2 separate regions of the Homo sapiens genome follow, and region 1 is linked to region 2. The links come from fine-mapping of genetic effects on gene expression. A gene starts in region 2. The other region holds a variant in brackets. All regions are shown on one strand. Distances are between the middles of the regions.

What was found. PIP is the estimated chance that this variant, and not a neighbour inherited with it, causes the effect.
Region 1: its variant is the best candidate, but not a certain one, in a credible set for the expression of HMCN1 in sun-exposed skin (GTEx, PIP 0.66).

Annotation. Positions count from the first base shown.
Region 1 is chr1:185,765,289-185,770,675 of GRCh38, forward strand. The region is part of intron 1 of HMCN1 (hemicentin 1); the gene reads left to right. Among named protein-coding and RNA genes, the nearest start is that of HMCN1, 34 kb to the left of the region's middle. The variant T/A (reference allele first, on the strand shown) is at 2,385.
Region 2 is chr1:185,731,218-185,736,604 of GRCh38, forward strand. HMCN1 (hemicentin 1) reads left to right here and starts at 3,174. Exons shown (of 107, transcript NM_031935.3): 1 at 3,174-3,830. The coding sequence starts at 3,563.

The sequences.
Region 1 (5,387 bases), 34 kb after region 2:
TAGAATATCTTAAAAGCATGAAAAACGGAGGAGAGAGAAAGAAGAAAGAGAGAGTTAAAGGAAGTTAGTAGTGGGAAGCCAAATTAGACATATACAAATAAGTGTAAATACTGAAATATGATTTATTTAAGATGGGTGAGTGGTAGTAATAGTAATAGCTGATCTTGCCAAGTGCTTGCTAAGTACTGGGTACTATTTGAAGCATTTCACATCTTTTATTTCATTTAATATTCTCAGCAAAACTCTTGAGGTAAGTACCACCAGTATCCCTGTTTCACAGATTAGGTCACCAAGATGAGGAAACCAAGGCATAAGGAGGCATGATAACATGTCTGAGTTCATATATCCAGTAGATGGGTAATTAGGACCAGAATCTGAGTAATTTAACTTGAGACTTCATTCTTGAACAATAATGCAGTAGGGCAATGGTTCTCAAAAGGTGGTCCCTGGACTAGCAGCATCAGCATTAACTGGGAACTTAGTATAAATGCAAGTTATCAGGCTTTACTTAAGAAACTGGATGGGGCCCAGCAATCTGTGTTCTAATCTATGTGATCCTTATTTTTGCTTAAGTTGGAGAACTCTTAAGGTAGAGCAAAGGCCAGTCTCCTGCTGTTCTGGATCTTCTTATCAATATGTGGTCCATTGTAAAAAGCTCCTCTTCTTCCTGTGGTCTGGATTGTTCAGCTACTCCTGGGGTTCTGTGTACCCATATCCTTATGACTACCTCCAGGTATTTAAGGTAGCTTGAGTTATCTTTGTGATATGCAATTAAAATATATAATTAAAACAAACACATTAGACAACTGGAATATGTTCGCTTTAATGAAGCTTATTAAACCAAAGCAAAGTTCTATATCTGGAAACATGGTAAACCAGGATAGTCAGACCAACCCTGCCACTGAAAACAGCAAAAATGTTTTTGATGAATACCTGTATAATCTGAAAAGCATGAGAATGCTGAAAAATAACAAGGAATTGCCTGGCCAAAATCTCAGAAGAAAATGAGAACTCAGAGACTGGGGGAATGCTGAAGCTGCTTCTGTCTGAGGACATTAGCCAGTTGCATAACCCAGCCAACTTGAGCCCAAGGCCTACCCATGGTAGGGAGTTTAAGAGGGGACATTCTCCCTGAATAAAGCTGAGATCCCAAGGGCTAAAGCTCAGGATAATGGTGAACCACAAGTAAACTCTTCTGGCCGTCTCAGGAAACTGCACGAGTAGTCATTTTAGTGCTTAGCAGAAGATGGCCCCAAAATCAAACCAAATGAAATAAACAGATCTTTGAGAAGTTTTAGCCAATCACTGGTGTTCTCAAGGACTCATTGCTTAAATACACCTTACCTAGGCAGTTAAAACAGAGCTAGGTGTGAATTTAGTTTAAGGTTGTTCTGAACAGGTGGTGCTTTTGTGTGTGTGTGGTAGAAGGAAATGCTAGTCCTAAGCCTCCGAGAATTCCCAAATAGTTCCATGAATAACTTGGGCAAATCACGGTCAAATTTAAGCAAGCATACAAGGAATCTAGGAACCCAGGATAAGAACCAGCAGAAACAACCAACCACCGAAATAGAACCACACAACTTAAGGTTTCATAATTGTCAGACAGATTATAAAACAAAACCCTCTCTTTAAAGAAGTAAGGCAAGCTTCAAAATGTTTTAAGGGAATAGGAAACTAAAATCCTAGCAGATTTGAGGAAAAAATAGAATTCAGAGAAATCATTAAAAAAAAAAAAGGAATTAAACCAAGGGGCTGATAACAAAGGCTTAATGTGTTTCGTGCTCTGAATAACCTTGTTTATTTTTTGATAAGAGTAGATTTTGTGAAATGTACTTTATGCAGTTAATTTCAGATTCAAATTAGTGAATAACATGCTTCAGTTAATATTTACATTCTAGATTGTCGATATATAAAGGTAATTTAAAGTACAGTAAACTTACATTAAGTTTATATTTCAGTGTCCGCATCCAACTGAGAGATTGATTTAGTGATTTGTGAGCTCTCCAATAATTGAGCAAAGGCATGATATTGATCTCAATTATCTGAATATATCATGAACACTTGTGAATTTTGAGAGTAAATATTTCAGTTAAATGGTATCAGCTTTCCATTTTACTTATCAACTTCAATTAAAGTGTTTAAAGGGAATAAGTAACTTTGGAAGCAATGCAAAGATAAGACAATAGTGACAATTTTACAAGTATGCAAGTAGAAAGTTTCTGGGTTCCACTAGCATGCAGCTGATTTAACAGTAACACAATCTGTATTCCCCAGAGAATAATTTTAATGTTCAAGATTCGTAAAACTTATAACTGAGGCTTAGTGTGTGGAAAGGAGAGAAGCACTGTGTTTTAACTGTGAATAAAGGTATCTGCAAATGTTGG[T/A]TATGTAATATCCAATTCATCCCTAGAGATGCTAATTATTCTTTAAGAATGTGGTAATGAGGTGAAACACACTGTTTGCCAGCAGGCATAATAGATCATATTTCATATCACTCATTTAAATCAGGGCATTAATTTTCATTACAAGATAAAGTCAGTGATAGAAACAGAGGCAAACTATGGGGAATGAAAAGTTTAGCAAGTATAGGCAATAAGCCACACAATAGTTGGCTCTTGAAATGCTGATCTCATTTACTTGCAGCCAGACTTGTTGAAAGATGGCTATCAGAAGAAAAACAAAAATCCCCTCTGTGGTGCAATATTAATGTTAATAGCCCTTAACAAGGAAAAAACATGAAGTTCAAGTTAACTGCCATAAAGGATAATTCCTTTGAATGCAACATGAAGCCAGAGAGGGAAATATAGTTTCTACTTTTTGCATTATTATTATTCCTCACCATACGTTTACTAAACACCTATCATGTCAAAATATTGAGAAAGAAGCCCACTTCGTTCAGAAAACTTACAATTGGTATAACCAAGGGCCAGGATGACTCTCATAGGTGACAGTAAGTTGGCTTCTTACATTTAATGAATATTTTCATGTTTTGATTTGCATTTTATCTTTTTCCTCCTCTGTGTATTTCAGTCATAGATTAGATGATGGGCTGGAAAAAAGTAAGAATTTTTAGAGGAGAGGGATGATTTGTTTGACAGGAAAGCATGTAAAAACAGGTGGGAGAAGTTGGCTTAATCCATTGTCATGTCCTCTGAGAAGAGAAAAAGCAGAAACAAAAGGTAGGTAAACCCCAAGACTGAATGATCAAGAGAGTGCATACCCTTATGCTGCATCTGCCACGTGAATGAATGAGTAAACAAATACACTTAAGGAATGTGTTCTACAAGTTGATACAAAACTTAGTATATCTAAGGCATAAGGAATTTAGGGCAAGTTAATCACACACTCTCAAAGTCAAGATGGCCAGTATGGTTTGGCTGGGTGTGGCGGCTCACGCCTGTGATCCTAGCACTTTGGGAGGCCAAGGTGGGAGGATCACTTGAACACAGGAGTTCAAGACTAGCCTGGGCAACATAGTAGGACCCCATCTCTATTTATTTAAAATTGTATTAATAATAATAATAAAAGAATGGGCCTGGAATCAGAAGACATGAAGTTAAGTATCATATCTGTTACTCACTTTTTGACCTTGAACAAAATATTTAACCTCATTAAGCCTATCTTCTAGTAGAAAAGACGAAAAGAGATATAATTTACAAAATATCTGGTACATAGCAGGTTAAAATCCTAAAAGGAATATGAAAATATTTGTTTCTACATTATATGACAGTTGTATGAATTAATAGAATTTTAAATATTTGATTTGAGGGACATTTTATACAATACCTTCTTTAATATGATTTTGGCCAAGAATCCCCTTTCCAAATACTTTGGGAATAGGGAGACTTTTTGTGTTGCATTGTAAGACTTTATAATAGGCCAGGTGCAGTGGCTCACACCTGTAATCCCAGCACTTCGGAAGGCTGAGGTGAGAGGATCACTGGAGCCCAGGAGCTTAAGACCAGCCTGAGTAACATGTCAGGACTTCATCTTTAAAAAAAATGAAAAAATTAGCTGAGCATGATGGCATGCACCTGTTGCCCCAGCTACTCAGAAGGCTGAGATGGGAAGACTGCTTAAGCCCAGGAGGTCAAGGTGCAGTGAGCCATGACTGTGCCACTGCATACCAGCCTGGGTGACAGAGTGAAACCCTGTCTCAAAAAAAGAAAGAAAAGATGTTATAATATATGTTTGGATAAAAAGAAAGCCTAATTGATGAGAAATATTTTGCCTATCATATAAAAAGAAAAATGGCAGGGTAGAGAAGAGTTTGGGTTGTTAAAAATGTATATGGGCAACTATATTAGTTAGCTTTTGCTGTGTAACAAATTATTCCAAAACTTAAATGGTGGTTTTTTAAGACAACCACCATTTCATATGGCTCCGGATTCTGTTAGTCAAAATTTGGGCTGAACTCAGCTGGGCAGTTCTTTTGGTCTTGTCTGGTCTTACTGATGCCTGTGTGATAAGCTGCTGAGTCAGGTAAGCCCTGGCTCTAGGATGACCTCAGCTGGGATTACTTACTCCATTTCTTGTGGGCTCCCATCATCACAGATGCTAGCTTAGGCTTTTTTATATAGTGGCTGGCAGGGTTCTAAGAGAGCAAGGGAAGTGTGAAAACCCTCTTAAGTCTATTCTTGGAACTGGCATACCATCACTTTCACCATATTCTGTTGGTCAAAACAAGTAACATGACCAGTCCAGAGTCAAAGGGAGGGGAGACTTTGCCTCTTGATAGGAGGCAAAGTTACATTTCAGAGGGTATGCATATAGACAGTTCCAGCTATTTTTGCAATCTTCTACAGTAGGGAAGTGAGTTCTAGTACATTTTATAATGCGGAGAATGAACTACAAGAGACTGATTCCACCAAACCTCAAAAACATCACCACTCTCTATAGAGAAAGGACTGAAAGGGTAATGTGAAGCTTGAAAGGAGCTGTGTTTGTGATGAATACTGAAGAGAGGAATGAACAAGGATTTAGACTTTTTCAGAGAGAGTATATATTAAAGCTATTCTTAGCAAAAAGTAAATAATTTAGCTTTTAACTTTAGATAAAGCATTGAAGACCACAATTGGGTAGTTGCAATATAGAAAATATAAAGTGTGCTGTATAAATGTTTTTTAAAAAAGAGAAAAGGAACACATAAAGAAAAAGATCCAGATTCTATTGAAAAATACAAAGATGGCATATGGCTAGCTATGATTTTCTTGTCCTGAAGAAAAATGGAGCTTTTGTTTTATAATGCAGTATCTCCATCTTAGACTACCTAAATGCAAACAGGAGTTTCTGAGAAACCTGATCTTTTTTTTGCACTTGTAAATAGGGTGAGGGGCAGGGGAGAAGTAATGTCTCTTCAGCCCAATAAACTGTTTCTAAGTTATGGC
Region 2 (5,387 bases):
TGACAAAAGAAAAAAATAATTTTTTTAAAATTAAGAGAGCATCAGTGAACTGTGGAAGAACTTTAAGTAGCTTCATATATGTGTTAATTGGGGCCCCTAAAGGAAAGGAGGTTGAAGACAGAAAAAATAATGGCCCCAAATGTCCAAATTTGATGAAAACAGATGGAAGAAGTACAAGAAATATGAGGGCAGCCACATCAATGCACATCATAATCAAACTGCTCAAAAACAGTAACAATAAAAAAACTCTTAAAAACATACATGGTTTATATAGAACAAGTAAGTACAAAGATGATAGAGATTATCTTTTTATTGGAAACAATACAAGCAAGAAGACAAATGAAAGTACTGAAAGAAAAACAAAAAACCTGTCTACCTAGAATTCTTTACTCAGCAAAAAAAAAAAGAAAAAACTCTTTGAAAAACAAAAGTGAAATAAAAACTTTTCCAGACATACAAAAGTGAAAGAATTTGTCTCTAGTCGAACTGCATTACTGAAATTATTAAAGAAAGTCTCTTAGTGAGAAGGAAAGTGATATCAGATGGGAATCTGGATCTACACAAAGAAATGAACAGCACAAAAAATGGTAACTACCTGGGTAAATATGCTACATTTTTCTTATTTAGATTCATTAAAAGATAACTGACTCCTTATGCAAAAAAATCAATATAATGTGGGATTTAAAATATAGTAATATGCAATAAAAATGGATGACAAAAATAGTAAAAAAGTCAGGAGGGGAGAAATGGAAGTATACTAATCTAAGGTTCTTATACATGAAGTGGTATAACACTACATGAAGAAAGGCTGGTAAATTAAAGATGTATACTATAAACTGTAAAGCAACCACTAAAAGAGTTTTAGCTAATAAGCTAGCAATGGAAATAAAATGGAATCATAAAATATTCAAAAAGAAGGCAAAAAAAAAAAAAAGGAACAAAGAATAGATGGAAGAAATAGAAAACACATAGCATGGTGGCAGATTTAAACTCAACCATATCCATAATCACATTGAGTGTAAAACATCTAAGAGCACAAATGAAAAGGCAGAGATTATTAGCCTGGATGAAAAAGCAAGACCCAATTTTAGGGTGACTACCTAAAATATACTTTAAATATAAAGAAAAAAATAAGTTAAAGGTGAAAGGATAGAAAATGATACACCATGCAACACTAATCAAAAGAAAGTTGCAGTGTTAATATCAGACAAAGTATATTTTGGAACAAATAATACTACCAGGGACAATGAAGGCAACTTCATAATGATAAAGGCGTCAATTCATGTCCATTATGTCAAAAGGACATAATAATCCTATGTGCTTATGTAACTAACCACAGAGCTTCAAATACATGAAGCTAAAACTCATAGAACTGCAAGAAGAAATACACAAATCCACAATTGTCGTCAGATATTTCAATACCACTCTCAAAAACTGATAGAACAAATAGGCAGAAATCAGTAAGGATATAGAAGATTGGAACATTATTAAACAACTTGACCTAATTAACATTTATAGAACATTCCACCCAACAGCATTCTTTTCAAGTGCACATGGAACATTTATAGATCATTTAATCCTTATTAGGTGGGTGCTATCATTATTCCCATTTACAGCTGAGTAAACACAGGTCTGAAAAAGTTTGGTAACCTTCTTGAAGGTCACACAGTTAAATGTCACAGCTGGGCTTTCAACCCAGGGTATCTGACCCAGAACTCTTAATCACTAGGCTCTGTGGCCTCCCTTGAGCACCTGGAATAGCTCAGGTCTCTAAGACTTAGAATGAAATCCTTTTTAAATAAACAACGGAATGGGAGACTCAAATAGCATTCTCTAAATACTGCTTGAGAAGGAAGTACCTTCCCCCTTTCCTCTCATATTCCCACTCAGCCCAAATGGCCTGTCTGCTTCCTTTAAGTGACATGACTTATAGGTATCATAAACTCGGGTTCCACAGCCGCTGGGACTGAAAGAGAAGACAGTTGTAGATTACAAAAGGTTGGTGGGAGCTAACTCTTCCTCAGGCTGCATCTCCGTTGGGTGGGCGGTCTAATATACATCCAAACAGAGATCAAGATGCCTGTTTGCCCCTCTTTAAATGCTGGGATCTGGACAACAACTCCTTTTCCAGGAAGGAAATGCGTTTTTATTAAAATGACATAAAGAATCCTTAGTTCATGGTAGACTTTCTTTGCTTATCCTCTTATCTCTGTTATTAGTACTATAACGTATATAGCAATCACAACACGGAAAAACGTTGGCATGTCTTCCAGGGTGAGGTTTCCTTCTTGACTGGCAAGAAAATGCCATAGAGGGGAGCACCTTTCCAATAGATCTTTGGCTGAGACCTGAGGCATGACTGTTCCAGGGGAGGAAATCTGAAACGGGGATATTATTCTGCCTTACTATGCTGAGCGTAGGATTCAAACTGCTCAGCAAATGTGAATCTTGATAATACAATTAAAAAATCAATTTTCTCTTTAATATGAATTTTATGTCTCATCTTTCCCCACACCTCTCTCGCCCCTCCTCCTTGTCCTTTCTACGGGGCTTCCATCCTGTATTCACATTCCCCTCTACAGTTAGTGACTACCTAGTTCTTGTCTCTCATTTCCCTCAGCAGCCCCTTTCCTCTTCCTGGGCTTCTTGCCCCTTCAGCGTTGTCCTCCCTTCCTTCCCTGCAGTCCAGAGTCTCAGAGGAGATCAAAGAGCGATAGTGTGGCTGCCTCGCAGCTGAGAGAATTTTCCAGCTCCCCCTCCTGGCTGGGCCGAGTTGTGGGCTGAGAGGCAGGAGGCTGGGCTGGGGCGTCTTGACTTTTGGGGGGAATTAGGAAAGAGGTGTCTAAAGCCGCGTTGTACACAATAGAAAAACAAAATTCCCTTTGTGCTAGTGTGGTGTCCCTCGGTTTGGGTCTTTGCCACACATTCTTGAAAGCCATTGTTTACACTAGCGTTTTGCAGGTTAGGAACGGTGCCGGTGGGAACCGAGCTGACACCGTAAGCGCTTCCCTGGGACTGAATTGACCCTACAATCAGTGGAGGGAAAAGTCACCCTCCGGGGGGGCCTCCAGAGCAAAGGAGGGAGGACGGCAACTGGCCAATCAGGAGGCGAGGCCGAGCCAGGCTTCCCCTCGTCGCTCGTGAGCTGCAAACAGTGGAAAGTTGGGAACCTCAGTCGCTGGCCCAGGCGGAGAGCAGCGGCGGCGGCGAGGGCAGCGGGATTCGGGCCGCGGCGCCGCAGGCTCAGAGCTGCCCCCGGGGCATGGACCCGACGCGCCGCCCGCACTCCGCCACAGGCTGTCCAGGGCCCGCGGGCAGATAGCAGTCCAGGAGGAAGCCGCATCCAGACAAAAGCTGCCGCATCCCTGCCCTGCCCAACCCCTGGAGGGATTCGAGTTTGGTGCTTGTCCCCGTCTGATTCTCAGCGCCAAACTTTTTGCTAGTTCAGAGATTCCAAGAGTCTGATGAGTTACTCTGAGAGGAAACCCTCTGCCTGTTGTTGAGGAGGACTGAGCACAGTGCTTAGGCGCTGAGGGGGAAAAAGAGGGGGAAAAAAAAGAAAATGATTTCCTGGGAAGTTGTCCATACAGTATTCCTGTTTGCTCTTCTTTATTCTTCCCTAGCTCAAGATGCGAGCCCCCAGTCAGAGATCAGAGCTGAGGAAATTCCCGAGGGGGCCTCCACGTTGGCTTTTGTGTTTGATGTGACTGGTTCTATGTATGATGATTTAGTTCAGGTGATTGAAGGGGCTTCCAAAATTTTGGAGACGTCTTTGAAAAGACCTAAAAGACCTCTTTTCAACTTTGCGTTGGTGCCTTTCCATGATCCAGGTAAGGGAAATATTTATACTTTGTCTTTGCTATGTCTCATGATTACATTATTTCTCATGCTGTGAATGAAATTGTTTGTCAGGAAGTTTCAAAACCATTTTAAAAAAATGTGCAGCTGAAAATAGTTGTAACAAAGAATTACTTGCTGGCGTCTGGGTTTGCTCATTGATACCTACTTAAGTCTCAGCCCTGGTGGAGATGGCTTGTTTAGGGAACTTGTACTGTGGTCCTCAAACCTGGAAATGTGGAGTTACGAAAAACAAAACCAAAAATCTTGGGCAACGACATCAAAATCACTTAACTCACTTAGATTTTAGAACTAAAGCATGTTTAATTACGAAGGCAGACTTGGACACGAATTTATAGCAGCGAAGCTCTAGGGGCTAACATCCAGATTGAAAGCACACTCTGAGGGTAACTCTCATTTAAGAGGGGAAAAAACCTGTTGTGTGAGACACAAGGAAGCCTGTAAGTAGTAACTACTAGTGGAACTGAAGACATGAAAAGAAAAGAGAGAAACCAATCATTTCTTAACTGAATCTATTCATCTTTGCACCAGGGCATCATTAGATAGGTTCACAGATGGGTATAAACATTACATCCATGTCTCCTGCGGTAGAATTGCTTGTAATTCGGAATGTCTGTGCTTTTTAAAGGTAGTTGAAGTGAAATAACTTCATTTTTGCCCTAAAGCCGTAGGTTTCAGCAGCTCCACTGTAATATGATCCTATTTACTTTTTTCAGTTTCTCTTTAAAGTAGCACCTCTCTGTGAGGCTTATAGGAGCCCCCATTGCCATAGCTGAGGGTAGCCTTGCAAGGGAAACCCTGGGGCTGGCAGTCTAATGTCCACCTGAGTTTCATTAGCACAAGTTGCTGCCCAGTTGAAGAAATGAAGCAGTGATTTCTTAACAGTCCTCCCCCACTGTTCTCCCACACTTTTCCTGCTTTTGAAATTCTCCCTTCACTAGAAGAACTTGACACAACCTCTTCACAACGAGAGTGTGATATCGGCAATCTGAAATTCCTTCCTGTGCATTTAGCAAAAGTATATAAGTTCAAATTATTGGTAGGTATTAAATATGGCAGGTTTTAACTATTAAACAATGGCACTGGGAGAAATTTAAAGATATATAGAACTCTCGGATTTTCATGCTCTTCACATGATGAAAACAATCTGTACTACTCTTCTGGGATATGTAATATATATATACACACACATACACATACATACATTACATATATGTAATTACATATATTTGTAATTTCTACATTGGTTAAACATGAATATTATTTATATTTGAATAAAGAATTGAATGATTATTTACTGTGTTTACTGTCTTAGACACTTCATATGTTGTGATTTTCAATGTATTAAATGTCAAGATGCCAACTGTGATGCAGTTTGAGGTTTTTGTTATTTCGGAATACCTTGAGTATGTTTCTTCTAGATGGATGAGTCTGAAGTTAGCTAAAAAATGAAGTGAAATTTTGTTTTTTCTCTAACACCACGATTTGCTTTTCACCAAAGAACTCTTATGAAATTATATTGCTGTAAA